4 linked regions of the Homo sapiens genome follow. The protein of the gene in region 3 interacts with the protein of the main gene of each other region in a pairwise test. Each region holds a gene or a part of one and is shown on either strand. Other genes may lie near its edges.

Region 1 (6,972 bases), on a different chromosome or scaffold from region 3:
TAATGTACCGTGAAGTGCTGACCGCAGTGCCTCGTTCATCGAAAGCATTCAGCGAAAGTCCATCTGTTCCTCCATGCCCAAGTCCTGCCTTCTTCAGAGCATTCCTGACCCCACTCCACGATCTCCCTGCGGGGACCTGAGGCAGCTGCAGTCCTCCCAGGTTCCCACTTGAGTGCGCCCTCCATGTCTGTTGGATTTATAAACTCCCTAAGCCCAAGGCCAATCGGCTTCCTGTTCACCACTCCCTCCTTACCGTTGCCTCCCTCGGTGCTTACAGCTCTCTTGTATTCACTTGATTTTCCCCTACACCCAACTAGAGGCCTTAAGGGCAGGGGCCTTGCCTCATTCGTGTATGTATCATCTGCACATACCAAGCACCCAGCAGGCCCTTAGCCAGTGCTTGATGGATCACAGACTCAGACCCCCAACCAGGGAAAGCAAGCACCACACTGCATGAACCCTGCCAAGAGAATGTGTTAAGGAAACAGAAAGGGCCACACCAATCCAAAGACCTTTATGGTGGCAGTTATTCATCAATTTCTGAACAAACAGACCAGGAAAAAGGTCAAGACTCACTTGGCCAGCAAACGTCTGTCGTCTTTGCAACTCTTCCCCAACCCACCAAACAACGTGGCGGGACATAACTGCTCCTTTTTTTTGAGAGAGTCTCGCTCTGCCACCAAGGCTGGAGTGCAGTGGTGCGATCTTGGCCTACTGCAACCTCCACCTCCCACATTCAAGCAATTCTCCTGCTGCAGCCTCCCAAGTAGCTGGGACTACAGGCGCCCGCCACCACGCCCGACTAATTTTTGTATGTTTAGTAGAGACGGGGTTTCATCATTTTGGGCGGGCAAGCAGGCCAGGCAGGTCTCAAACTCCCGGCCTCCAGTGATCTGCCGCCTCAGCCTCCCAAAGTGCTGGGATTACAGGTATGAGCACTGCATCTGGACCGCAACTCCTTCTTTCTCTGAACTCTCCTGTTCTCTACTGCTGCAGATGTGGTGAATAAGTTCTGGGCCACATACTCCCGCGCTTGAGCCTCACCTTTGCCACTTGCTCCTCTTAGGCTAAACTCAAGTAGGGTTAATTATCTCTAACTGGTAGAGTCACTGAAGAGATTACCTAGAACATACAGGTAATGCCTGCACATAGTAGGCACTCAGTAAATGTTCTCTCTTGCCATATCCTTAAGTAAAATAAGAAGTAGGGCCAGAGAAGATGGTGAAAATAATGAGATACTGACAGCTTGTGTTATAGGACAATGCTTCTCAACCAGAGGCAATTGTGCCTCCCAGGGGACATTTAGCCATGTCAGGAGACATTTTTGATGGTTACAACTGGAGCAGGGCTGGTGCTACTGGCATCTAGTGGGCAGAGGCCAGAGATGCTGCTAAACATCCTACACTGCACAGGACAGCCTCCACCCCCCAACAAATAATTACCTGTCCCTAAATATCAATAGTGCCAAGGCTGAGATACCCCATAACCCTGTTATAGGATAAGAATTCAGATGTCCTGACCCCTTTCCTTCCCATCCATTATTGGTTAAAAAAAAAACCCCTCCCGTCTAGACTCAAGCATCAAAAGCAGAGCTGAGAGGAGGCCCCATCCTCCTGCCTCTCTCCTTCTTCCCCAAGTACACACACAAACCTGCCAATGCCAGTGGACAGGATGGCAGTGGAGGTCTTCAGTTCCTCGTAGAGATCAGCGCCATTCACGGGGAAAGCCGAGAACTGAGCCAGCAGCACCCGCCTCAGGGCAACCAGGGCCTGCCAAAGGGCCCCAGACTGCTCAGCAACAAATTGCCCGTAGAAGCTGGCATCCCAGGGTGTCATTCACCCTACTTCTCAATATCTGAGAACCCTCTGCTCCCTTTGGCTTGGGATGGACTTTTGTTATTGTTGTTGTTTCAGACAGGGTCTCACTCTGTCGCCCAGATTGGAGTGCAGTAGCACGATCTCGGCTCACTGCAACCTCTGCCTCCCGGGCTCAAATGATTCTCCTTCCTCAGCCTCCCGAGTAGCTGGGATTGTAGGCGTGGGCCACCACACCCAGCTAATTTTTGTATTTTTAGTAGGGACAGGGTTTCACCATGTTGGCCTGGATGGTCTCGAACTCCTGACTTCTGACTCCAAGTGACCCACCCGCCTCGGCCTCCCAAAGTGCTGGGATTACAGGCATGAGCCACCGCGCCCAGCTGGCTTGGGATGGACTTTTTAAAAAGACACTCAGGTTTGGAATGTGGAGATCAGGAGCTCACCTTGTAAGACAAGCCACATTTCTGAGCTACCTCTTCCAGGTCTGCAGAAACCAGGTCCACCACTGAAAACAAAACACGTATAGCGGATTGGCAGAGAGGACTGGGGCCTCCCACACTTGGTTTTTCCTCATCTGTCAAATGGGGTGTCAATTCTACCCCCCGGCAGGCCGTCTCAGGAGGCCAGTGTGAAATAACAAAGCTGCAGGAGCCGGCGCGGTGCCCTGCACACAGTAGGAATCTCTACCCTGTTTTAGAGCTTGGCTCCCCACGCCCACCCTTCCTGAGCCTCTCCAGAAGCGCGGCCCTCTAGGAATGGAGGGGAAGCGCCCTGCAGGTATGCCAGGGCAGTGCGCCAGCCCTCGGGGCCTGCCCAGGTTGTGCGAGGCCCGCGCGGCTCCCTGGCACGCGCACACCCGGTCACCTGTCTTGATCCTGTGGCTCCTGAGAAGCTGGATCATCTCCTCGGTAAGGCCAGGGCACAGTCCGACCCTGAGCACGCCCATGTTCCCCGCAGGCCGGAACAGCCCCAGGGGGACTGCACGTCACGTGGGCATTCGCGGGGGGTCCTCTCCAGACGCCCCTCCCCTACCCCTTCCTAGAGAGGACACAGGCGCGCTGGCTGCCGGAGGAGAAAGGAGAGAGGAGGAGGCGGCACCAAGGGTAGGGCTGGGGGTCATCCGCCCGCCCGGGATCCGCCGGGATTCCCGCGCCCAGAGCCCGCCCGCCGGGTCGCGCCGCGCTGCCGCTTCCGGGTTCCAGGCTGGCGCGCGGCGAGGACCTGGCCTGCAGCGCCATCTGCGGGCCGCACGGGGCAGAGCCGCTGCGCCCCTCTCCACCGCCTGCACAGGTTCCCGAGTCCCACGACCCCCTCCGCGCTCAACACGCCACCCGCGGCCACATTCGGCCTCTACCTTCTGCCGCAACACACACACCGACCTTCTAAAGAGCCTTCTGTGCGCCAGCTTCCGTTCCAAACGGAACGGATCTCCGCTGGAGACAAAATGCGACACAAGACGACCCGCCCTTACCCCCAGGGAGCTTACTGTGAGCAAGGGAAAGACAGACAATGAAAAGGAATCGCAGAAATCACATCATTACAGATTATACGACAGGTGTCAAGAAGCAGCAAAGCATCCAGAGGGCACCTGCGTCTATTTTTCAAAAGTTTGTTTTGTTTTGGTTGAGACAGGGTCTCGATCGGCCGCCCAGGCTGGAGTGCCCTGGTGAGATCTCAGCTTTGCAGCCTCGACCTCCTGGGTTCAAGCGATCCTCCTGCCTCAGCCTCCTGAGTAGCTGGGACTACAGTCACGTGCCACCTTGCCCAGCTAATTTTTGTATTTTTTGTAGAGGTTTCGCCTCTACAAAATGGGGTTACACCATGTTGCCCACACAGGTCTCGAACTACTGGGCTCAAACAATCCTCCTGCCTTGGTCTCCCGAAGTGCGGGGATTACAGGTGTGAGCCACCGTGCCCGGCCTCTATTTTTTATTTTATTTTTTATTTTTTTTAAGGGCAAGAAACCTTGGTTATATAGAACACACACAAAAAGATATGATTTGGTATTTTTAAATGTCCTTTGCTTTGCCTCATCCATAGGAAGAAATAAAACTTTACATGGTTATCTCATCACAAATCTGTGAGGGAGGCGCTATTTTTTATCCCTGTTTCACCAATGAAGAAACTGAGGTTCAGTGAGGTTAAATCACTTGCCAAAGGTCACCCAGCTAGGCGGCACAGGGCTGGACTTCACATCCACATCTGACTCTGCAAAGCCAGTGCTTTCTAACAGCCCCCCTCCCCACCCCTGAAGCTGTGTACATGTTTTCCTACTGTAAGGTGGTTTCTCTGAGAGCAGAGATCATGTGTGGCCCATCTCTGTATCCCACTGCAACTGCCACCATTGTCACTCCACACAGGAAAGTACTTGGGAGTGTGGGTGTGGCACATTTAGAATTCTAGCAGTGAAGTCTGATCATATGTGAGCCATGAACCCCTATGAACCATGTGGGCTTTCCCTTTCACTAACCGACTGGGCACAGTGGAGTCTGCAGCCTATGGTTTCAGGATAGAGAGCCTTAGCTTCTACGGACAAAGTTTCCCTCCCCAGCAGACACTTTCCAATACTGCCTATCTCTCAGGGCCACACCACCATCCTCTACATCCCACGCCCATCTCTCACCATCCTTATTCTCCTTCCCAGGGCAGTGCGGAAGGACACAGGTGTCAGGCATTTTGAGATCTTCAGAGAAGGGCAGGGCTGCCATCACCATGGAGTATTAGAGCTGGAAGGGGCCCAAGGGCTCATGCAGTCTGTTCCTTGGTTTTACCCCTCTCATGATGCTGCTTCACAGTCACACTGGCCCTTGGTCTGGCCAGCCACATAGCTAGCCTGGCAGCAGTAGCCTCAAATCAAGGGGGGAGGCTGGCCTGTAATTGTTACACTCTGTGATGATTATGAAGTCAGCTCATTGCACCTGCAGACTGTCCAAACTAAAGGTGGGCCACTGCCCCCACAGTTTCTCTCTGCTTCTGGTCAGCTGGGTTGTCCTGCATGGTGACGGGTGTCATCCCGAACAAATCAGATGGCATCAGAGGCACTCCATCAAGTGGGAGATGGGGAGGAGGCTGTACTGAAGAAAGAAAACTTCAACATGATGAATGCCCTTGACCAACTGCCAAAACCCTTTTCAAACCCCAAGTCTATGAACCGGACCGTCACTACCAAAGGACTCCCACTAGCCTCAAAGGGCAATTTGGTCAACTTCTTGGAGGATGATACCATCAACCTACTGTAAGTCACAAATCTGGTCCCTCCCTCCCTCCCTCCCTCCCTCCCTTCCTTCCTCCCTTCCTTCCTCCCTTCCTTCCTTCCTTCCTTTTTTTTTTTTTTTTTGACAGGATCTTGCTTTGTCACCCAGGCTGGAGTGCAGTGGTGCAATCTCGGCTCACTGCAGCCTTGAATTCTTGAGCTCAAGTGATCTTCCCACCTCCACCTCCCAAGTAGCTGGGACTATTGACGCGCCACCACCACACCTGGCTAATTTTCATATATATATATATATATATATATATATATATATATATATATATATATATAAATTTTTTTTTTTGGTAGAAACGGGGTTTCACCGTGTTGCCCAGGCTGGTCTTGAACTTCCGGGCTCAAGCGATCCTCCCGCCTCAGCCTCCCACAGTGTTGGGATTATAGGCTTGAGCCACCATGCCTATAGTTTCTAAGAAAGGCTGGAGCCGAGGGCTGGGCAGAGAGACAAAGAATCTATACTTCCCTGACTTGTCACAACCCAGTTCCTTGACTCCCAGAGAAGAGCGTGTGGGCAGGTTGGATCTATTTATGTATTCCTGAGCCCCAAATCACTTCTTGGAGGCATATGGAGCTCCCACTCCAGGAGGCCTTCTTGGATTAGTCAGTTTGTTGACAGTGCTCCTTATCCTGCCTTGACTGGCTGTGGTCCTCACCATCACCAAATCCCTGACACACCCATGGCTCCTCTTCCTCAACCCTCTCTCTTTGGTACCTTCATCTACCTGACTGCTCCCCAGTAGCCTGCCTTCCTTCGGACTGGGTTTTGCTGTTCCTCCTCACCAAGTCTGGTTTTCCTCTACTTCATTCCACAAAACTCTTTGAGCACCTGCAAGGTGTCTGTCCCAGTGTTTAAGTTCTGGGAACGCAGAGCTGGAAAGCACAGTCCCTGCCTTTAAGGAGCTCCCAGTCTGGCATGTGGAGGTCAGGGGTGAAAGGATGGGGATCATGCAATAACCAGAATGATATAGCATGGTCTGGTAAGTGCCAGGACAGGATGCCTTGAGGGACCAGAGGGGCTTAGTATAGCTTGAGACTGGGTGCAGTTGAAGGAGGCTTCTTGGAGGAAGTGATATTTGAGCTGAGTCTCCAAGGAAGGAAAGGAGTTAGCCAGTGAAGGGGTGGTGGTACAGGGTGATGTGGGCTGAGGGAATTACTTGCAGGTCACCCACCACATGGGTGAATGACCTGTGCAGTCACAAATAGCCCTGCACTTACAAGGGGCCTGTGCTTAGTTTAATGCTTTTCTGTTACTATCTTCAAATTCAGAATTTTTGAATAAGGGGCTCAGGGTACTTCAATTTGCACTGGGCTCCACAGACTACATAGCTGGTCTTGAGTATGTGAGAGGGATGTGGTGTCCATTCCCCAAAGTGCCCGTAAGCAAGCAGGTATGGCTAAAGTGATGGATGCTCGTAGGAAACTTCATGGTATACTGGGAATCTTGGACTAGAAGCCCAAACTCAGATCCAAGTTCTGCCACTTAGAGATTTATGGTCTTAGACAACTTAATTAAGATCGGAGGCCAGATGGGGTAGCCCACGCCTGTAATCCCAGCACTTTGAGAGGCTGAGGCGGATGCATCACTTGAAGTCAGGAGTTTGAGACCAGCCTGGCCAACATGGTGAAACCTCGTCTCTACTAAAAATACAAAAATTAGCTGGATGTGGTGGCACGCACCTGTTGTCCCAGCTACTCAAGAGGCTGAGGCGGAAGAATCCTTTGAACCTGGGAGGTGGAGGTCGCAGTGAGCCAAGATTGTGCCACTGCACTCCAGCCAGGGGTCTGGGAGACAGAGCAAGGCTCCATAAAAAAAACAAAACAAAACAAAAAAAAAAACAGATCAGGGACCCTCAGCCCCTTGTTTGCCAAATGGGGCTAACATCCATC
Region 2 (7,879 bases), on a different chromosome or scaffold from region 3:
GAGGGTGAGAGAAATCCTTTGAAATCCAGCTGAATTTTTTTTTTTTTTTTTTTTGCTTTAGTTGGTGGCAGAGCTGAATTGGGACTTGGAGTAGGAGACAGGGGGCTGGGCAGGCCTCTACCACTCCCAAAAGGCCAGGAGCCTCCTGCTGAGGACTTAGGCCCAAATTACTTTCCCAGAAGAGTTTTCCAGAGGCTTCCTTGGCCAGCTAGTGGAAGACCAGGATGAAGTCTAGCTCAGCCTTTCCTCTGCCCCAGCCCCACATGGGGTTTCTGGGCCTTGGAGTCCCCCAGGCATGAAGGTCTGTTCCCTGGCCCAAGCACTGTTGACCAAGCCAGTGACTTACATGGCTGAGAAGAGTTGTTGGGGAGCAGCCTACTTTTTCTTCCCTGCACCCCAGATCTATTGAGAATGGTGCAGGGTGTGCCCGGGATGGGAGAGGCAGACCCCTCGGAGAAAAGACAAGTGGAAGGGCAATGGAGTGGGGGAAACATTTATTTGACTTCCAGGAAAGCTACAAACAAATACCAAAAGCGAATCACTGAGACAGGCCCCGCAAAGACAGATTTCACACGTAGCACAGCATCCACTCGCTCACTACAAATGGTCTTGGAAGCAAGATGGGTAAGGGAGAGATGGGTCTGACCCAGACTATCCCCATATTTACAAGCTTTGGGCCCTCTAGCCAGACCCATGGATTCACAGAGAAATACACAAGACATTTTGCACTGAGGATCATTTTTGTTTCCGTATACTCCCAGACCAGGCCTTGTGGGGCCTACCCAGGCAGCAGGAACTTAAATCTCACTATCTTCTTTCTCTCTTCTCAATACCATCCCTTTGGTCCTCCCTAGCCCCTTCCCACCCTAGGACCAAGCCCCTAGGAGACTTGGGCCTAGGGAGTGAGGAGGGAGGAGGAGGAGAATGAAAAGGGACTCCATCTCCGAAGCCAGCTCAGCTTGACCCCACTGCGGCACTACCCCACCTCAACTGCTGCCCCTTACAGAAGTTTCCAGCTGAAACTCAAAATACAGCGATCATCTTTTTATAAATAAGTTAGAACACAGATGGGGAGGGGAGAGTTCACATTAAACATGCGAATTTCTTTTTTTTTTTTTCCTGGGGGAAAGACTGCAACCACAGACACAAACATTCAGAAACACTGGCGGATTTGGGACAAGCAGAAGGGAGTTGGGAGCATGGAAGGAAAATAATAATAATAATTATTATTAACAATAATAACAAGATAACCAGTCCAGGAGAGAGGGAGCCACAGGAAGACCTAAGACCAAACGAAATATCGTAACACAAGGCGAGGCAGGCTTGTGGGAACCGGTCCCCAGCGGGCGGCGGCAGAGCGGGGAGGATTGGAGGGGCCAGGGCTGGGGGTGGCACGGGCTCTTGGGCCGCTGGGCTCCTCTGGGCGGGCTCAGGGCTGGAAGGCGCTGCCAGCTGTAGCCAGGCTCATACTTTTCAATTTGTTGTCCTTCTTCCACTTCATGCGCCGGTTCTGGAACCAGATCTTGATCTGGCGCTCGGACAGGCAGAGTGCGTGGGCGATCTCGATGCGCCGTCGCCGGGTCAGGTAGCGGTTGAAGTGGAACTCCTTTTCCAGCTCCAGGGTCTGGTAGCGGGTATACGCGGTCCGGGCCCTTTTCCCGTCCGGCCCGGTCATATCTGGAGCAGATAGAGGAAAGCCGCAAGGCAACATTATTCCGGTTAAGGGAGGGGGCACTGGGTGGGAGGGGGCGGGGGAGCAGGACCCAGGCGTCCCGGCACCCAGCTCACCACAGCTCCAATCCTCTCTACTCCAGATGCCCACATTCAAGCTCGATTTCTGCACCCCTTTCTACTGCATCCCCCACTTCTGCAGGCAGCCAGTGCGCCCGGCTTTGTCTCTTGCTCGCTCCTAGTGCCTCACCCTTGGCTGGGCTCAGGCGGCCGCTCGCCCCGGGAGGGAGGAGAGCGGTTGCACTTTTGCCCCGGAAAGCTCCTTTTACTGTTCACCCCTTCTTTGCTAGCGACAGTCTCAAAATTTCAGGGGTAAGCAGGACCCTTCCCCACATTATATGAACCCCATCCTTTATCCTAAAGCTGGTTCAGCTGCGCTAATAAAAACCTAAGCCGAAGCTGGAAACAAATTATTAAAAATACCCCCCTCTTAACAGAGAGACCCTTTTTGGCTCTGTCTACGAAGCTATGAGGCCCCTCTTAGATACTTCTCCCCCTTAGAAAAATGAATCTATATTTAGGGTAAAGCCAAGCTCTCCTTGTCCCCCCGATCCCACCCCAAAACGCAGAGAAGGAAAGCCGAGAAGACAAAAAAGAGAGAGAGAATTACCATGGCTGATGTGAAGCTTCCTCATCCAGGGGAATATTTGCGGAGTCTGCCCCTCGGGCGCGGCTGTGGAGGTGGCCATGGGCTCTGGCTGCGCCCGAGCTAGGCTGGGGCTGCTTAGCTGGCTTGCCGCTTCCTCAGGCTCCGAGGACGCGCTGGCCTCGTCTATTTCGGTGAAATTGGCGCTGGAGCTGGCTGAGGTCGCCTGGTCGGAGGGGGACGAAGCAGAGGGCTTGGCGCCGTGGCTGTCGCCGTTGGTGCAGGGCAGGGACTCGGGCGAGGACAGGGAGCAGCTCGAAGCCGCTTGCCTGAAGCGGGGCTCCTGGGCGGGCGCGGGGAAGGCGCGCGAGCTCTCGCCCACCGCCCCAAAGTGGCTGGAGGAGGCCGAGGAGCGGTTGACGCTGAGGTCCATCCCATTGTAATTGTAGCCGTAAGAGCCGGTGTGCATGGCAGCGGGATCCCTGTAAGAGCCGCTCAGAGAGCTGCCACTGCCATAATTTAGCAACTGATAGTCCGGGCCATTTGGATAACGCCCCGAGAAGGAGTTTACAAAGTACGAGCTCATTTGGGTGATTTTGGAGGGCTTGATTTGTGGATCGTGGTCGTTATAACCCTGTGCTTCACGATTTATGATGTATTAATGAATTATAGCGATGCACTGTACTTCGTTTTGCTATGTATGCGGCCAAATATGGGGGGGGGGTTGGAAGGGGGGTGGGGGGCGTTAGGGAATCACGTGCTTTTGTTGACCAGTCGTAAATTCTCGCTGATGACCTCAAGAGGTAATTCATGCTCTATGGTTACAAATAATGACGATCCGAGAATCGTTAGGGCCGATTCAATGCGAGCCTCCGAGAGAGGGGGAAAAAAGGAGAAGGGGGAGAAACAGAGAGAAGGTTGGCTTTGGCCTCTGAGCAGAGCGCGCCACCTCCCGGCGACCGACGGGAGCGCGGGCGTGAGACCGCCATGGCGGCGGGCGGCTGCCTCCCTGCTGGCTCCCTGCAGGCTCCCTGCAGTCGCCGGGAGAGAAAGAAACCCGGCCAAGGCTCAGCCACAGGGTTGAGCCTTTTAGAGCAGGGGTTGGGCTTTTTACCCACTTTCTTGTGGGTGGGGTTAGCCTCTCTATTTGGTTCTTTCTCCCTACATCATCATTGTCGTTATTATTTTAACTTTGGATGAGAAGATCAAAGATAGAGTTGCTTTTCCCTTTCTTGGGCTTTGCAAGTCTCCGAATTGGAGGCGGAAATGGGGGAAGGGTTGGAAGTTGTGTGTGAAAAACAATTATTGCAACGGGTTTTCCCCAGGAGCTTAGTCCGGCCTGCATCCTGGTGGAACTGCTGTTACCGGTCCACAGCGCCCAGGCCGAGCCGGCAGGGCTGGGCGGGAGGCTTGAAAAAGAAGGAGAAGCGTTCACTTCTCCTGGGCCACTTGGAAGTTCGAAATCCCCTTCCGGACCTCCTTGGTGGTCCTTAGCCCAGGCGTGGGGAGTGACAGAGCAGGACAGGGACCCCAGAAACCGAGCACAGCTGGGGCTAAGCGGCCTAGTTGCCGAAAAGACTGCAGCGGCCACCGCGTCTGCTGCTTAGTTTGAGTAGTAACATGTGTCTGAGAGTTTGTAAAGCGGGATCCCTTCCCCTCCTCCTCGGCTATTGCATTCGGAGGCCCCACTACAGGTCCCTCACTCGCAGCTAGGCAGTTTGAGAATTTGCCTGGTGGCAGCCGCCTTCCCGGAAAAGGGGTTCCAAGGACCCGCATGCTTTGCTGAGCACGCTGGGCGGCCAGAGACCGCCGCAGCTGGTCTCCTATTAGGAGGGGACTATTTTCTTTAAAAATAAGAAAGGAAGCGAGAGGGCGGAGGAATAAAGGAAAACAGTGACCGCAGCTTGCCTTCTGGGTGCCGGTGCAAGCAGAGAGAGAATGAGCCATTCTGGGTTGAGAGGATGACACTAAAAGCCCCATCACCTGGCCTCCTGCCCTGGGGTCTCCAAGGAGCAAGGGAAAGTTGTGGCCTTCGGCCTGTGCCTGGCTGGTGGCTTTACATTCCCCTACTTGAGGCTGATCTCCTACTTGAGGCTGATCTGCTACTTGAGGTGGGAAGGGGCACCTGGAGCCTTCAGCTGCAGGGTGAGAGATACCCAGTGGCCCCATTTTTCAGTCTCCAGAGCCACAGGCCAGGAGCGGAGGGCCAAGGCTGGCGAAAAAACCTGGCCATGTGGACGGGCCAAAGACCAGGGGTCGCTGCGAAGGTGAGGACAGAAAAGCGCTGCAGAGGCCCCCAGACTATGGCTCCGTCTCCGCCAGAGAGCTTTAGGGGCCTCAGTGGCTCCCTTAGTGCTGTGTATACACGAGGAAAGGCTAGAGAATGAGAGGGACACAGCACCTCTCCATCCCCCAAGTCTGCACGGGGAGAAGCGGCTGTGAGCCTCAGCACCAGGGAAACGCAGCGCTGGGGCCTGGGCAGGACTGATCGCTCCAGCCTTTATCTCAGCTGTAACTTCCCAGTCGAACAGGGCTCGCTTCGGCGGGCCAGGGCTCTCGCCTTTGCTGAAGAATTCTGGCTCAGGAAAGATGGAGAGGCTGGGGGTTGAGGAGAGAGGAAAAAATGGCAGGGGAGGATTGGAGGTGACCGAGCGTCGAGTTTTCACATCTTTATTATTGTTGTTGTTGTTGTTATTATTATTATTATTATCATCATCATCATCATCATCATCATCGAAGTATTTCACGTCCAGAGCTAAGACAAGACTACAAACACAACACATAGAAAATTAATAAAATAGAACTTTGTTTTCTTCTGAGGCTCCTCTTCTTACTTCTAGGTAGTATGTGCTCCTTCCAGTGGCTTTGGGGAGGGGGTGGGAGAGACGACAGGTCTGGGATCAGGGAGTCTTCAAGGCCCCCGCTGAGGGGACAGCGAATCTACCATTGAACCGTGCACGGGGGACATGGACAAAATGAGACGCGACAGGGACAAGAGCATTTTGCTCTGCTTCCAGGAAACATCAAGTGAGTCCGCTCCTCAGTTCTCACCAGGAAGCCTGATCAGGCTGAGGCGAGTTCCTCGGGAAGGAAGGGCGCGCGGGATGCTGGGTGGGCTCGAGTAGTGAGGCCTCAGAGCACCCGCCGGGAGCTGTGCGGGCGGGGGCGTCCAGGAGAGCGCTGGGCCCCGCCTGTCTGCGCCGGAGAGCAGGTCTCCTGGCTCCCCCACCCGAGAGCCTTCCTTCCCGGGTCTCTCTGACGCCCTCGGCTCCCCACAGGCCTTTCCCCTCGCGTCCTCCCTCCCTTTCCAGCACCTTCACTCGGCCTGTTTTTCTTCCTCCTCCTCGGCACTGAGCTGAGACGCGCTGAGCAGTTTGCTCTCCTTTTTCCACTTCATGCGTCGGTTCTGGAACCATATCTTGATCTGCCTCTCCGTCAGGCACAGGGCGTGCGCGATCTCGATGCGCCGCCGCCGCGTCAGGTAGCGATTGTAGTGAAACTCCTTCTCCAGCTCCAGCGTCTGGTAACGTGTGTATGTCTGGCGGCCTCGCCGGCCGCTGGGCCCAAAGGAGGAACCTGTTACGCAGAGTGGAGATGCTGAGGCCTGCGGTCACCGGGCCCAGGACCCCCTCCCCTAGTCGACCCTCGAACACAGACTCCAGCCAGTACCGGGATGCCCTCTATTCTGCCGGCTCCCTTCCCCCGTTTCGCACTCCTCCAGCGCCCCCTCCAGATTCCCTCCTAGTCTCCTAGGCCTGTGCCGTCTGTCTAGACTCTAGATGGGGGAGGGGAGGAGCAGTTTGAACTCCCACCTGAGCCTGGGGGGAGGGGCTGGTCAGGTGTGTCTCTTCCTAGTTGCATCTTGTCTTTCCCTCCCTTTCCATCCATCTTGTTCCCACCCCCCGTCATCCCCCCAACCCAATGATAAATCCAGGCCGTTAATCCGTAATGACGTAGATCGATCCATAGTCCACATTAACGGCTCCTCACTTTCGAGTCCGGCTAATGGACATCAGTTGGGACTTAAGGCCAACAAATAATCCAACCTGAGACCCCGCGCCTGTTTCTCCCTCTCTCGCTCCGCCTGCTCCCTCTCTCTTCCTTCCCCTTATTCCTCCTCCCTCCTCTGACTACCACCCCTTTCCTGGTGCCTCATCTTGCCCCAGCTCCCCACCCACAGGGAAACACAGTCCCAGACAGACTCAACTCTTTCTCTTCAGCGTCACCCCCTACCCCCTTGCATGACGCACTCCGTTTTTAATGGAGCCGTCTTTGGTTGGGGAACCCTACCAGGGCTGGGAGAGGGGGGTTGGGGGCTCAAAGTAAAGCCAAGCCAGTGACTGCAGGCTCCTGCTCCCTTCCCTGTCCTGGAACCCCGGCTCTGGCCAGGCGCCCCAGGAGAGCACACTTGCTCCCCATGGCTCCCAGTGCGGCTGGGACTTTGCAAACTTTGTAACTCCTGCCTAATAGGGGACACAGCGAGAGACCCCCGGCCGGCGCCCAATCTTCTTCTATCTCCTAACTGAGATGCCCACCCAGCACCCTGTGGGAGATTGGGGCAGGGGGCGCTCACTAGTTCTGTGTCCCGGGGTGGGCGCCCAGGGGAGCCGGGGCGACGGCGACGGGAAGTCTCACTCACTGTTGCACGAATTCATCCGCTGCATCCACGGGTAGACCGGAGTGGAGCACTTCTGCTCTTCTGTCTCGCCGAACACGCTCTTGTCCTGCGCGCAGTCCGACTTCCGCGGCTCGGGGTGGAACGGGGGCTGCTCGTCGGCGCCGGAGAGTGCGCAGGCCGACTCTTTCTCGCGGTAGAAGGCCGGCGCCGGCCCGTAGTCGCAGGGCGCCGCTCGGCCGTAGCCACCGCCCGCCGGCGGGTAATAGGAGGAAGTGGCAAAGCCCTTGTCCTGGCCCGGCCCTGGCCCGTAGGGCGCGGGGTAATGTCTCAGCGGGTCCGCATAGCCCGACGAATAGAGCGGTAGCTGGCCCAGGAAGGACTCCTGCCCGCTGGCCAGAGTGACGGGGAAGGTGGAGTTCACGAAATAGGAACTCATTGGGAGGGGAGGCGCGCGCGGCCGCTGCTGCTCCGCCGGGTTTATGATTTGTTGTGTTTTATAGTCCGAGCGCCGCGCCTATTAGTAGTATATCCGAGATTGGGTTTTAGCTGAGGGGGGATGGCGAGGTGCCAGTGAGGGCCAGAAGGAAATACAACCATCTGATCCAACACTGACCAATGGCAGAGGCAGGAATTGTCAAATAGCACCCAGGAGGAGCGCAGCCCGCACGAGGGACCCGCGCACAAACCTATCAACCTTTTTTTTTTTCCTCCTTCTCCTTCGCCTTTCTCCTCTCTCCCCCCAACAACACAACGCGTCCTGTTCCACCTACGTAGGATCTGTGAAACAGGCTCAGTGCCTTTGAGGGAGGAGGGAACGTTTAGATTGAGACCACCCCACTCCCGGGTGATTAAATAAATATGTCTCTCCCCCACCCCACGCAGGATTGGAAAAAGTTAATTGTGTTTTCAGAAAAGTTAACCCCTGCGTTGCTTCGACCCCTTCT
Region 3 (7,028 bases):
GGATAAAGTGGCTTTGACTATGAATGCACCACAGAGATCTCATTGTTTGACCCCAGGGAGGAAGAGCAGCCAAGAGTGAGTCTATGCAAGAGTCTGCAGATAGAAATCTTCTCAGCATCAGGACAGCAGGGAAGCTGTCCATCAGGGGCTTTGTTAGTTGACAACTACATCCCAGGCACGTTTAACAGGTGGCTAAGGAAATAAACTATTCATTAAGTAAATAACCAGGAAGGCAACTGCCAGCCCCAAGCTGATCCATCGCCCTGCTCTGTCTATCACTTTCATTGAGGTGCTAATACTCTCAGAATCCCCGTGCTGGGACACTTTTTTGGCACAGAGGTAGAATTTTTATTGGTCAGAAATACCTGGCCTTCCTGCTTCCTGGGGTGGGAAGGGAAGAGAGGGTCAGCAATTTTACAAACCTAAGCACTAAAGCACACCAAAATTCAGAATAAAGTTTCAATACTGAGTTCGCTTAAGAACAACCACTTAGGTAGAAATGAAACCTAATTTCATCTTGTTCCCTATCCTTCCTAATTTTATCTTGTTCCCTATCCTCCCTCCCCCTAGCTCTTCACACCTCCACACCCCAAAACACACACCCAAATTCCCTCTCTCCCTCACAAGAGGGGAATGCTTGCATATTCAAATAACCCGCCCACATAGAGTCTAGACCCTTCCCTCACCACTCAAGACCTTAAAGAGGAAGGCTCCCACCTACCACCAATCCCCACCAAAAAGCCTTTGGGGAAAAAAACTCATTTGAGAATGCAATGGAATTTTAATTTTTCTTTCCTTTTTATCACATCCAAACCATTCATATTAACAGATTAACAAATTAACATTCATTTATAATTATTCCCAACAAATTAAGTTGTTTACAAGTTTCCCTCCATTGTCCAAAATATATGTCCTCATAATAATGCTGTAAGCATCAGGTATCACTTGGTTCAGAACTGGAACACAAGTATCTTATCTGCATGCTGGGTATCCCCTGCACTTAACCATCATAAGCCCTCATTCTGTTGCTTGCTCTGATTGCCTCTGATATCGGCATACTATTCCATGTTAATAACAAATAGGTTGAGTATCCTTTTTCTGAAATGCTTGGGACCAGAAGTGTTTTGGATTTCAGGTTTTTTTCGAACTTTGGAATATTTCATATACATAATGAGGTATCTTGGGGATGGAACCAAAGTCTAAATATAAAGTCCATTTATGTTTTGTTTTATACATACTTTATACACATAGCCTGAAGGTAATTTTTTTTTTTTTGAGACGGAATCTTGCTCGGTCTGCAACCTCCGCCCCCGGTTTCAAGCGATTATCCGGCTCCAGCCTCCTGAGTAGCTGAGATTACAGGCATCTGCCACCATGCCCAGCTAATTTGTTTGTATTTTTAGTAGAGACGGGGTTCCACCATGTTTGTCATGCTGTTCTCAAACTCCTGATCTCAGGTGATCTGCCTGCCTCGGCCTCCCAAAGCGCTGGGATTACAGGCATGAGCCACCGTGCCTGGCCCACCTGAAGGTAATTTTACACAATATTTTAAATAATTTTGTGCATGAAACAAAGTTTGTGTCAAGTACTGGTGTGTGGAAATTCCCACTTTTGGCAATATGTCAGTGCTCAGTTTCAGATTTTAGAGCATTTTGGATTTGGGATTTCTTGATTGGAGCTGCTGAGCCTGTATCATCATTTACTTAATTATTATACTACTGAACATTTAGGTTGTTTGTGATTTTTCACTCACAAGAGTGGTGCCACAGTTAAAAATTTTCATAAGCATAGCTTTTTCCTTTTGGACTATTTCTCGATAATAGATTTCCAGAAGAGTATTACTGAGACATCAAAGTTACAAACATTGTAATAATTTGATACATACGGTGAAAAAATTTCTCAAAAATGGCCGGCCATGGTGTCTCATGCCTGTTATCCCAGAATTTAGGGAGGCCAAGGTGGGTGGATCACTTGAGTCCAGGAGTTCAAGACCAGCCTGGCCAAAATGGCGAAACCCCATCTCTACTAAAAATACAAAAATTAGCTGGGTGTGGTGGTGCATGCCTGTAATCCCAGCTACTCGGGAGGCTGAGGCAGGAGAAATGCCTGAACCCTGGAGGCAGAGGTTGCAGTGAGCCTAGATTACACTACTGTACTCCAGTCTGGGTGACAGAGTGAGACCCTATCTCAAAAAATAATAATGATTTCTCAAAAGGATAATAACCATCTTGCCAGTTACTAAGCAGATACTTTTCTCAAATCCATTGTTCACTTTTCTTTCTTTCATTTTTCTTTTTGAGATGGAGTCTCACTCTGTCACCCAGGCTGGAGTGCAGTGGCGCCATCTCAGCTCACTGCAACCTCTGCTCCTGGGTTCAAGCGATTCTCCTGTCTCAGCCTCCTGAGTAGCTGGGATTACAGGCATGCACCACCACACCCAGCTAATTTTTTGTATTTTAGTAGAGACGGAGTTTCACCATGTTGGCCAGGCTGGTCGTGAACTCCTGACCTCAGGTGACCCAACCACCTTGGCCTCCCAAAGTGTTGGGGTTACAGGTGTGAGCCACCACGCCCAGCCTGTTGACTTTTATTTCGAAAGGAGTTGGTACATTTCAGGAAGTGACCAACAGGTCTTGGTTTGGTGCTAAGTAGGAGACAACTTAGAGCTCCACAGATCATAGAGAATCCCAACCATTTTTGCCTCCATTCCTATCTTCACCTACATTCCCACACCCACACCACCCACCAAAACACTTCTGGTCCCAGGCATTTCAGAAAAAGGATACTCAACCTGTATGCAGATATCAGAGGCGATCAGAACAAGCAACAGAATGAGGGCTTATGATGGTTCAGTGGCGGGGGGAACCCAGCATGGACATAAGATACCTGGGGGAGTAGGAAGATAGTTCACCAAAACAATCCTGACAGCCCCTCATCATTGGGACCATTATTTATCATTAGATAAATAATGACGGCTGACTGCTCATTATTTATCATTAGATAAATAATGACTGCTTATTATTTACCCCCTAATTTCTGGACATTTCCTTGCCTTCTGCTTCACTGTTCCCTGAGCCTGATTGCCTTCCCTCTCTCCCTCTTACACGTGCCTTATTTCATCTCATCCCTAAGCAGCTTTTTCTAGCTTAGTTCTAATGTCTTCCTCTCAGTCAGTACGCACTGGGATCCAGAAGCACGAGATACTAAAGTGTTTAGGGTTATTTCCTGCCCTGAAGCATCTCAGCCTAGCAGGAAAACAGGCATGCAGATGCAATTTACTTTTTTTTTTTTTTTTTTTGAAACGGAATCTCGCTCTGTCGCCCAGGCTGGTGTGCAGTGGCGCAATCTCAGCTCACTGCAAGCTCCCCCTGCTGGGTTCACGCCATTCTCCTGCCTCAGCCTCCCAAGTAGCTGGGACTACAGGGGCCCGCCACCACGCCCGGCTAATTTTTTTGTATTTTTAGTAGAGAAGAGGTTTCACCGTGTTAGCCAGGATGGCTATGATCTCCTGACCTCGTGATCCGCCCGCCTCACCTCCCAAAGTGCTGGGATTACAGGCGTGGGCCACCACGCCTGGGCCATTTTTTTTTTAAACCTGCTCCTTACACATTTATTACATCATAATAATTTGCCTTCTCTCTCTCTCTTTTTTTTTTTTTGGAGACGGAGTCTTACTCTGTTGCCCAGGCTGGAGTGCAGTGGTGCGGTCTTGGCATATTGCAACCTCTGTCTCCTGGGTTCAAATGATTCTCCTGCCTCAGCCTCCTGAGTAGCTGGAACTACAGGTGTGTGCCACTACGCCCCGCTAATTTTTTGTATTTTTAGTAGAGACGGGTTTTCACCACGTTAGCCAGGATGGTCTTGATCTCCTGACCTGGTGATCTGCCCATTTCGGCATCCCAAAGTGCTGGGATTAGAGGCGTGAGCCACTGTGCCCGACCTGAGATGAGGTTTTACCATGTTGGCCAGGCTAGTCTTGAAGTCCTGACCTCAAGTGATCCGCCCATCTCCGCCTCCAAAAGTGCTGAGATTACAGGTGTGAGCCACAGTATCCGGCCTGCCTTCTCTCTTATTTACAGGAATTTACATTTATCTTGTCCCACCTACTAGATTAGTAGTTCCTAAACTTCAGTGTATATAGAAATCACTTGGAGAGCTTATTTAACATGCAAATTCCAAAGTCTCACCCCTAGAGTGGGCTGGTGGTTCCCTCGCCCCTTGCTACTGGAATGTGGACCAGGGACCAGGACCAGCAGCACTCCCTGCAAGTTGATAAAAATACCAAATCCTGGGCCCCTACCCTGAATGAGAACCAGCATCATGAAGATCCCTGGGTATTCATTCCCACATTAAAGTTTGAGAGTGAGAGTCCAGCTCAGTATTTCTCAAACTTGCCTGAGACCCATAGTAGGCAATGTATTTTATGCTTGACACCCACCATACCCACATATACCCATGTGAAATAGAAATTTCACAAAACAATCCTTACTCTTAAGGGATTCCCATCAATATTTTCTATTCTACTCTATACTTTTTTTTTTTTTTAATGTGGGTCTTGACCACTAAATTGATTTCCCACCCCACTAAGACATGCAACTCTGCAACCCACCATTTGAAAAACACTGCTCTAGTGATTAGACTTCAGCTACATTAGCCTGGGCAGAGATGAATCAGAAACTGGCTCACCTATGGTAGAAGTTACATCCATTTAGTACGTTTTCTTTTACTCTTGGGGTGGAAGGTAGGGAAGAAGAACAAGTCTTTATAAATAGGAGTATATATCTTTATAAATAGGAGTAGCTTCCGCAGCTTTGGGAAATTGAGGATGCTTTCCTTCACCTGGGTAATTCCCCCCTGGTTAGAGACACTCTCGGTTAGTCCTCTGCATTAGCCTTTAGGAGGGAGGAGCTGTGCATGGAGGGTTTGTGGAAAAGAGCCCAGTCCTTCTACTGGGATGCCCTCATTGGGCAAGGCGAGGGTGTGCACTCACCTTCAGAGGGCCCAGATGGCTGCTTCCCCGGCTCTGTGACCTGAAGGCTCACAGGAATATCCAGAAATTTCTCATAGCAGTCTCCATACCACACAAGGAGCTCTTGGTTCTGATGGATCTCTTTGCAGCTCTCATAAAATATATGCCCTTGACACTGCACAGCAACTAGGTTCTGCTCCTTGGGGAAGCGGGCACAGTTGACATAGGACATCCAGTTCCCCGTACCTCCTTTTCCATCTATAAAGTGGCTCAAATGACCATCTTCAAAGATCTAAATGAAATAAGACATGAAGTTTGTATTGTACTTCTTTTTTGGTCTAATCTATAAAATAAATTTTTTAATACTTGTAACCTAAATATCACACTTGAGTCCACCAAATACACTTCTATCATTCTGATTTTTATGTCATTACAAGTAGTTTATAAATTTACTTATGCCAACATAGATTTGTTAGTTTAAGGACACCTCTCTAGGTAATGTCACATATTGGGTTTGTTTGTTTTTTTCAGAGACAGAGTCTCACTCTGTTGCCCAGACTGGAGTGCAGTGGCTCAATCACAGGTCACAGTAGCCTCGAATTCCTGGGCTCAAATGATCCTCCCACCTTAGCCCCCTGAGTAGCTGGAACTAAAGGCATGCACCATCACGCCTGGCAAATTTTTTTAAAAAAATTTTTTGTAGAGACAGGGCCTCACTCTTTCCTAGGCTGGCCTCAAACTCCTGGGTTCAAGTGATCCTCCCACCTTGGCCTCCTAAAGTGCTAGAATTACAGGTGTAAGCCACTGAGCCTGCCTAATGTGACATATTCTAAAAGATTCTTACTTTTATCACTTTCTTGCTTCCCAAATTCCTATAGTGAGCACATGTTAATTTCATAAGCAGAGGTAAGTGAAACAAAAAGGTTTTATTTAATTCCACCACTTAAACACAACTGAATAGTTTTATATTTTACTCCCAGTTAGGTTTCATGCATATTAATGGAGCTATAGATTATTTCTTTCAAGGCCGGGCCTGGTGGCTCACACCTGTAATCCCCGCACTTTGGGAGGCCAAAGCAGGCGGATCATGAGGTCAGGAGTTCGAGACCAGCCTGGCCAACATGGTGAAACCCCTCTCTACTAAAAATACAAAAATTAGCCGGGCATGGTGGCACATGCCTGTAATCCTAGCTACTCGGAAGACTGAGGCAAGAGAATTGCTTGAACCCAGGAGGTGGAGGTCACAGTGAGCTGAGATCACGCCACTGCACTCCAACCTGGGTAACAGACAAAAACTCCGTCTCAAGAAAAAAAAAACAAAAAAAAAAAAACAAAGAAAGATTACTTCTTTCTCTGCTGCTGGCAATTTCGCTGTCTCCAACATTTTGTTATTATAAACAACCCTAGGATTAACATATTCCACATAGCCTCAATTTCAGATTATTTTCCTGTACTATATTCCTAGAAGTAGAAATTCAGGGTCAAGGGACTTTGAACATTTTAAGGTATCTGATACATTCTGACAAATTTTCTCCTGCAGGTAATAAACTGCAGTCCCACTAGCATATCCCTAATATATCATCACTAGATCTTGAAGAGTATCTGGTTATTTTTTTTTTAATCCTTGACTAATTTTATAGGTGAATAATATTGAATTTTAAAACTTGTTTTTATTCTCTTTAGCATAGTTTCAGCACTCTATAATATCTAAAGCATTTAGTTTTGTCTATAAATATAATACAACATATTGATTCTTTAAATGTATATTCCATTGCTAATCTTCCAGACTAAAATGACTTAAGGCACCCACAAAACACAGAATTCATGCAGAGGTGCTATCCTCATGGAGCAAACACTGGCCGTTCCTTCCTTTTACAGGCAACACAAACCACAGATATCTGCCCTGGATGTCCTCTCTCTCTGACCAGGACTCTCCCAAAAGGGCAAAGGCCAAGATTTCCCCGGACTAGTCTCCCGCCCCATTTTCAGCAGCAGACCCACCAGAAACAGATTTACCTCCCACATCACAGAATTGTCTCCGTAGGTCTTCACTTCACTG
Region 4 (7,502 bases), on a different chromosome or scaffold from region 3:
CCATAATAATGAATGTTGTGTAGCTAAGCTTTGGTCAGAGGAAATAATCTAAAGGTTTTGTGAATTCATGTAACCTTTTGGGCTGCTCACCTTAAGGTAACTCCTGTATTAACAGGAGGAACAGAATAGGGAAAAAGATCTCAGTTCAGTGATGTAGCTTTGTGACCAGCCAGTGATCCAGTTCAATCAGGTAGAAATGACCTTCCTGCTACATCAATATTTGCTTCTATGGAGGCTAGTTTCCCCACTTAGGGCATGAGAAGAATTGGTAAAGTCAACATAAAATTGCCAAACCTGTCACCAAAAATGATGGCAAATCTGTATTTTTCTCTTAAACCGTGTTATAAAAGCTGTAATAAGGTATAGGCTGAGCATCATGGCTCATGCCTGTATTCCCAGCACTTTGGGAGGCCAGATTCCTTGAGACCAGTGTGGGGAACATGGCAAAACCTTGTCTCTAGGAAAAATAGCCAGGTATGGTGGCATGTACCTTAGTCTTAGTGATGTGGGAGGATTGCTTGAGCCTGGGAGGCAGAAGTTGCAGTGAGCTAAGATTGCAACGCTGCAGTCCAGCCTGGGTGATAGAGTGAGACCCCATCTTAAAAATAAAATAAAGATATAAATGACATCCAATAAAGTACACATATTTGAGCTGTAGGATAAGTCTTGAATTTTATTATAATCCCGTGAAACCATCATCAGAGTCACCATAATGAATTTATCTAATCTATCACCTTTGTATTTACTTGGAGCCTTTATAAAGTTTTTCTCTCTGCTCTTCAAACAACCATTGATTTACTTTGCTGTATGATGGAGTACTTTCCATTTTCTGGAATTTTCTGACTGATGTAATAAAGTGTTTCCTCTTATAATCCCTGGGTGCTCTCCTGCATCATGCTTATTTTGATGTCATTGTAGATATATGAGTTGTTCATTCGTTTTATGTTGCTGAGAAGTATAGTCTGCCGTGAAATGTCATTGTATATTCATTCATTCATCCATCCATTTATGGATATTTTAGTTGCTGCATACTTTTTTTTTTTTTTTTTTTCAAGACTCTCTACCAGGTTGGAGTGCAGTGGTGTGATTTTGGCTCATTGCAACCTCCACCTCCCAGGTTCAAGTGAGTCTCCCACCTCAGCCTCCCACGTAGCTGGGATTACATGCGTAAGCCATCATGCCCAGCTGTTTTTTGTATTTTTAGTAGAGATGGGGTTTCACTGTGTTACCGGGTTCATCTCAAACTCTGGGCCTCAAGTGATCTGCCTGCATTGGCCTACAAAAGTGCTCAGATTACAGGCCTGAGCCATGAGCCACCGCACCTGTAATTGATTCTGAGGCCAGGCACGATGGCTCACGCCTATAATCCCAGCACTTTGGGAAGCGCAGGTGGGTGGATCACTTGAGGTCAGGAGTTTGAGACCAGGCTGGCCAACATGGTGAATCCCCATCTGTACTAAAAATACAGAAATTAGCCAGGCATGGTGGCGCATGCCTGTAATCCCAGCTACTCACTCAGGAGGCTGAGGCAGGAGAATCACTTGAACCCAGGAGGCAGAGGTTACAGTGAGCTGAGATCACACCACTGCACTCCAGCCTGCGCAACAGAGTGAGACTCTGTTTCAAAAAAGAAAAAAAAAAATTTATTCTGAGATAATCCCAGTTCCCAGTGTGAAACTATTCCTGCAGTCACTGGAAAATAATAACCACTTTCTTGTAAGGAGATGAAATTTTGGAGCTCAGATGCCGTGTTTATATTGTTATTCAGATGGCCTTTTTAACCTGTGCTTTAATGGTGAAAGTTGTAGCGACTGATGTGTGTACCACAATGGCATTGGCTAAGTTGCTCGTCCTTTGAGATAGATGTCAATGTGATTAAAGAAATTGAGTACACCTTAGCATATGAATTAAGAAACATATTGACATAGTGATCCTCATAGTGACATAGATCAGCAGGACTTGTGTTCTGAGCACTGGTCATGACCCTGCTCATGATGAAACAGGATCTGGTCAAAACAGGATGCACTAAAGAAACCAGCTGAAAGCAGTAAAACTAAGATGGCAAGAATATGAACTCTAGTTACCCTCATTGCCTCACTGCTCATTATATGCTCATTATAATGTATTAGCATGCTAAAAGACACTCCCACCAGCACCATGGCCGTTTACAAATGCTATGGCAATGCCCAGAAGCTACCTCATGTAGTTTAAAAGAGAAGGAACCCCTGGTTCTGGGAACTCCCCACTCTTTTTCTAGAAAATTCATGAATAACCCACCTCTTATTTAGCACATAATTAAGGAGTAGCTATAAATATAGCTAGCCAACAATCCACGGGTGCTACTTTGCCTGTGGAGTAGCCCTGCTCTGTCTGTGGAGCAGCCATTTTCCTGTTCTCTTGCTCTCATAAACTTGCTTTGCCTTCACTTTACACTCTTGGCTTGCTCTTGAATTATTTCCTTTATGAAGCCAGGAACCCTCCTGGATTGAGCCCCAATTTTGGGATTTGCTAGCATCACTAGAGCAATTTTCTGTGGGAACCAGTGGCCAACTGCCAGCTTCACTACCTGCTTCAGGGTGTACCAACATCCGTCTATTTCCCTGTCATTAGATCTTTATTATTATTTTATTTTTTTGAGACGGAGTCTAGCTCTGTCGCCAGGCTGGAGTGCAGTCATGCGATCTCAGCTCATTGCAACCTCTGCCTCCAGAGTTCAGGCGATTCTCCTGCCTCAGCCTCCCGAGTAGCTGGGACTACAGGTGTCTGCCACCATGCCCAGCAATTTTTTTAACATGGGTTTTGCTGTGTTAGCCAGGATGGTCTTGATCTCCTGACTTCATGATCTGTCCACCTCGGCCTCCCAAAGTGCTGGGATTACAGGCGTGAGCAACCGTGCCCGGCTAATTTTTTTATTTTTATTAGAGATGGGGTTTCACCATATTGGTCAGGCTGGTCTCGAACTCCTGACCTCATGATCCACCTGACTCAGCCTCCCAAAGTGTTGGGATTATAGGCATGAGCCACTGCACCCAGCAATTTATTTATTTTTTATTTTTTATTTTTTTTGAGACAGAGTCTCACTCCTGTTGCCCAGGCTGGAGTGCAATGGCATGATCTCGACTCATCGCAACCTCCACCTCCAGGGTTCAAGTAATTCTCCTACCTCAGCCTCCCGAGTAGCTGGAATTGGAGGCATGCAGCACCATGCCTGGAAAATTTTGTACTTTCAGTAGAGACACGGTTTCTCCATGTTGGCCAGGCTGGTCTCGAACTCCCGACCTCAGGTGATCCACCTGCCTTGGCCTCCCAAAGTGCTGGGATTACAGGTGTGAGCCACCATGTCTGGCCTTTATTTTTATTTTTTGTGGGTATATAGTAGTGTATATATTTGTAGATTACATTAGATATTTTGATGTAGCCATGCCATATGTGATAATCACATAGGGTAAATGGGGTCTCAGTCACCTCAACATTTATCCTCTGTATTATAAACAGTCCAGTTATACTCTTTTAGTTATTTTTAAATATATAATTAAATTATTTTGACTATAGCCACCCTGTTATGGTAGCAAATATTAGGTCTTATTCATTTTTGCTCACTGTTTTTTGTACCCATCCTGTCATCATGTCTTATGGAGAATTTTCTTTTGTTCCCAACAAAACAATGAAACTCGCAAAACTGACTGTAATGATTCAGTCTACGTGAATTTAAAGAGCAATCAATACTTAATGTTCTCAGCTCTGAGTGCACACATTGTAAGTCTGAATGATGCCAATGATATGGCCACTTAGATAAGTAAAGTTTGGGAGCATCTCAAATAGTATTTTTATTCTCTGGGTGCAGGATGAGCTTCCTAGAGTCTGATGTGATACCTATTTGATGCTTTTACAAAGAATCAATAATCTTCCTCCTTTGAGGTGTGAGCAGGGCTTTCCAGCAGCCCTCAGAATGTAACATGGTCTGCATTCGGTTTGCTCTTGGAGGATACCACCATTGTTGGCTGAGAGCTCTGGGAAGTACTTTACCCAGAAGGCGCTAGTTGCAAGGCCCAGGATGAGGGATTTCTGGGCATGCTTGTCAGGCCAGGGAGTACTGGGTTGGGACTGAGAAGGCACAAGAGGAGTAGTCATCTCTGCTCCCAAGTGGCAGGTCTGAGGCTCATAGGCACTGGCTGGGGTGATGCCTGCTCCACCCACAGTTGATGGCAGCAGCCACACTGAGGGACCTAGCTCAGGTAAATGCTGTGTATTACAGGCTTCACCCCAGCTAGAGTAATACAGGTAGAGGAACCAATAGGTACAAAGGCTTGGAGGTGCATCTGAGCCATGAACATTTCAGAACCTGGTAACCATGTTGTGTCATGGAAAGTGGGGAACTACATTACCCAGAAAGCTCTGCTTTAAACGACAGCCGGTCAGAGCCAGTGAGCACTCGGAAAGAAGGCATTTCCACGTGTGCACGTAACGTAAGGCCGAGACTTCCGGGGTCTCTAGTAGCGGCTGTGTATCGGCGATGCGGGTGTTTCCCCAGTTTGTGGCCCCTGAGTGCTGGGTGGGACCGCGGTGACTGAACCTAGAAGGTGGAGAGGAATCGTCCTCGGTGCCCAGAGGCGGCTCTGCAGCCCCGTGACGGCGACCACTGCTCCCGGGCCGTGCTTCCCCAAGTAGTCCGATGGCAGCGGCTGTGCCGAGGCGCCCAACTCAGGTAATTGTGGTGCCTTCTGTGCCCTCAGGTCACCCCATCGTCACCCAGGTCCTAAACCAGCGAGGGAGCGGCTCCTGCTCGTGGGTCTGTAGCCGGTACCCGGCGTAGGAACACTGAGGCGCTCACAGGAGGCCTCTCCTTGTAACCGTCCAGTGGGTTCACGTTGCCAGCTGCCTAGACAGAGCCGATTTATGAAGACTGGGGAATTGCGATGGAGAAATAGTAATTCACGCAGAGCCGTCCTGCTGTTCGGGAGACAGGAGTTTTATTATTCAAATCAGTCTCCCTGAGCATTCTGGGATCAGAGTTTTCAAAATTTGGCGGGTAGGGGCTTGGGAAGTGGGGAGTGCTGATCAGTCTGGTTGGAGATGGATTCATAGGGGGTTAAAGTGAGTTTTTCATGCTGTTTTCTGTTCTGGGTGGGATGGCAGAACTGATTGACCCAGATTACCGGTCTGTGTGTTGTCCGCTGATCCATCCAGTGCAGGATCTGCAAAATGCCCCAAGCACTGATCTTAGATATTGGGGAAACCAGCCCCACACCACCCAGCAGATACCCCGAGTCCTGCGGAGACAAAGGAGTTAGAAAGAGACAGAATACGCATTTAAAAGGCGGGTCCAGGTGGCCAGAGCATTGGAGGCTTCCTGGCGGCCCAGAGCTCTTGGGCTCCACCCAGTTTATTGGTTTACAAGCTCTTTGTTCTTATGGCTGATTGGAGGGGGAGGAAGCGATCAGGAAAAGGATTAATCAGTAAAGGAGAACTCGTGAGTCATTCCATAAGATGTAAAGCACTGGCCGTTTCTGTGAATTTCCTTGAACAAAGGCGTGTGTCTAAACTACTTAAGATCTTTAACTTAACTGAAACGGGTGGCTGCGGGTTTCAGGAGGAGCCAAGATGTTTGATTATGCTCCACTGCTTCAAGGGAGTGTGATCTCCCTGAGCAACCCATGGAATGCTGCTGAAGAGTTATGCTCTCGGGGCATAAAGACATGAAGGCAATAAGGAGACTTTTCTCCTCAGAGGCCGCCCATGGCTTCCCATGGGTGTCTCACACAGGGGAGACCAACTCAACTAGCACCCCAGAAACTCACATTAGGTTTTACAATAGTAAGGTTATCTTCAGGAGCAACTTGGGGAGGTTCAGACTCTTGGAGCCAGAAGCTGCATGACCCCTAAACCGTAATTTCTATTCTTGTAGCTAATTTGTTAGTCCTGCAAAGACAGGCTGGTCCCCAGGCAAGAAAGGGGTCTTTTCAGGAAAGGGCTATTATCAATTTTGTTTCAGAGTGAAACCATGAACTGAATTCTTTTCCAAAGTTAATTCAGCCTATGCCCAGGAATGAAAAAAGACGGCTGAAAGGTTGGAAGCAAGATGGAGTCGGTTAGGTCTGATTTCTTTCACTGTCATAATTTCGTCAGTTATAATTTTGCAAAGTCGGTTTCACCTGTTTCTGACACCAGTGGGATGCAGTGGGGAGAGTGACAGGCACAGGTAGGGGTGCAGGCAATGGCCTGCAGATGGACAGAGCTGGAAGGATGGAACCTGGGGTTCACAGGCATCTGTCAGGAACAACGTGTGAGATGGAGCTCTTCCTGGTAGAGCAAGCAGGCCAGGGGCTGTGCATTCATCATGAGGATTCTAGAAGCCATGGAGAGTTTTGAAGAAAGGAGGGACATGATCCAAATCCAGGCTTTTAAGAAGTTTCCCAAAGGCCAATCAAAGGAAGAACATCATAGAGAGAGAGGATGAGGACTTTGGGGCCTTGGGAGGTTGAATCCGTTTTGTAGATCACATAGATGGTAGAGATGACATTTTGCACTGAGAAAAGCAGGTCAGACAACCAGCCTTAGGGTTACCTGGTTCCAGGGACAAGAAAGGGTTCAGGGAGTCCTGAGCTTATCAAATCCTGTGACATGTTTGTAATGTCTGCCTTTCCCCTCAGGCACTCCTGGCTGCAGAAGCACTTAGGGAACCCACACAGGGAAGTGGAGGGTGTTCCATTCCCTCATTGGTCCTGACGCCATCTACAGGTTCTCTAGCTTGTGGTGTCCTGGGACTCTTAAGTGCCATTTTTTTCAGTCCTTTGATCCGAGGACCCTGGAGAATCTCTGAAGCCAGGATACCAAGTCCATGACAGGTTATATGGAGGTATTCCCATTTCTGTCAACCAATGTAAACACCCTTGTAAGATTAACCCAGGATTTGCTACCAGGTTGTGAAATGCTTAGAGATAAAACGGATCAAAGTCAGGAGGTGATATTACCACAGTTCTACCTGGCTACAGGCTTCATCTGGCTGGACCTTGTTGCATAGACTGTGGGTTGAGGGAAGAGGAAGAAAGGTCAGAGATAAGGCTCCTGCCATAATCCAGGTGAGGGTTAATGGATCAGATAAGTGGTAAATCACATGGGTCTGGATTCAGGATTCACTTTTTGTAAAGAGACAGCTAGGTTTTCTTTTTTTTTTCTTAACGTGGAATTTCAGTCTTGTTGCCCAGGCTGGAGTGCAATGGCGCAATCTTGGGCTCACTGGAGCCTCTGCCTCCCAGGTTCAAGCAATTCTCCTGCCTCAGCATTCAAGGTAGCTGGCATTACAGGCACCCACCATCATGCCCAGCTAATTTTTGTATTTTTAGTAGAGACGAGGTTTTACCATGTTGGCCAGGCTGGTCTCGAACTCCTGACCTCAAGTGATCGTCACATCTCGGCCTCCCAAAGTGCTGGGATTATAGGCATGGACCAATGCGCCCAGCCGAGACAGCTAGGCTTTTTTTTTTTTTTTTTTTTTTTTTTTT

Evidence for each region.
Region 1: the proteins of PRDM14 (region 3) and RAD51D interact in binary tests that used the Homo sapiens proteins (3 or more experiments, as listed by UniProt).
Region 2: the proteins of PRDM14 (region 3) and HOXB5 interact in binary tests that used the Homo sapiens proteins (3 or more experiments, as listed by UniProt).
Region 4: the proteins of PRDM14 (region 3) and ZNF587 interact in binary tests that used the Homo sapiens proteins (3 or more experiments, as listed by UniProt).

Annotation. Positions count from the first base shown.
Region 1 is NC_000017.11:35,116,851-35,123,822, forward strand, and holds the start of RAD51D (DNA repair protein RAD51 homolog 4), read right to left. Parts: upstream 3,011-6,972; 5' UTR 2,764-3,010; coding exon 2,682-2,763; intron 2,323-2,681; coding exon 2,261-2,322; intron 1,770-2,260; coding exon 1,651-1,769; intron 188-1,650; coding exon of another isoform or gene 9-187; intron 1-8. Other genes in the region: FNDC8 (fibronectin type III domain-containing protein 8), read left to right, coding at 4,844-5,052. UniProt on the Homo sapiens protein: Involved in the homologous recombination repair (HRR) pathway of double-stranded DNA breaks arising during DNA replication or induced by DNA-damaging agents. Bind to single-stranded DNA (ssDNA) and has DNA-dependent ATPase activity.
Region 2 is NC_000017.11:48,590,780-48,598,658, forward strand, and holds HOXB5 (homeobox protein Hox-B5), read right to left. Parts: upstream 3,001-7,879; 5' UTR 2,904-3,000; coding exon 2,342-2,903; intron 1,678-2,341; coding exon 1,430-1,677; 3' UTR 478-1,429; downstream 1-477. Other genes in the region: HOXB6 (homeobox protein Hox-B6), read right to left, coding at 5,634-5,893, 6,957-7,449. UniProt on the Homo sapiens protein: Sequence-specific transcription factor which is part of a developmental regulatory system that provides cells with specific positional identities on the anterior-posterior axis.
Region 3 is NC_000008.11:70,061,245-70,068,272, forward strand, and holds part of PRDM14 (PR domain zinc finger protein 14), read right to left. Parts: coding exon 6,986-7,028; intron 5,262-6,985; coding exon 4,991-5,261; intron 1-4,990. UniProt on the Homo sapiens protein: Transcription factor that has both positive and negative roles on transcription. Required for the maintenance of embryonic stem cell identity and the reacquisition of pluripotency in somatic cells.
Region 4 is NC_000019.10:57,845,367-57,852,868, forward strand, and holds the start of ZNF587 (zinc finger protein 587), read left to right. Parts: upstream 1-4,492; 5' UTR 4,493-4,672; coding exon 4,673-4,705; intron 4,706-4,948; exon of another isoform or gene 4,949-5,195; intron 5,196-7,502. UniProt on the Homo sapiens protein: May be involved in transcriptional regulation.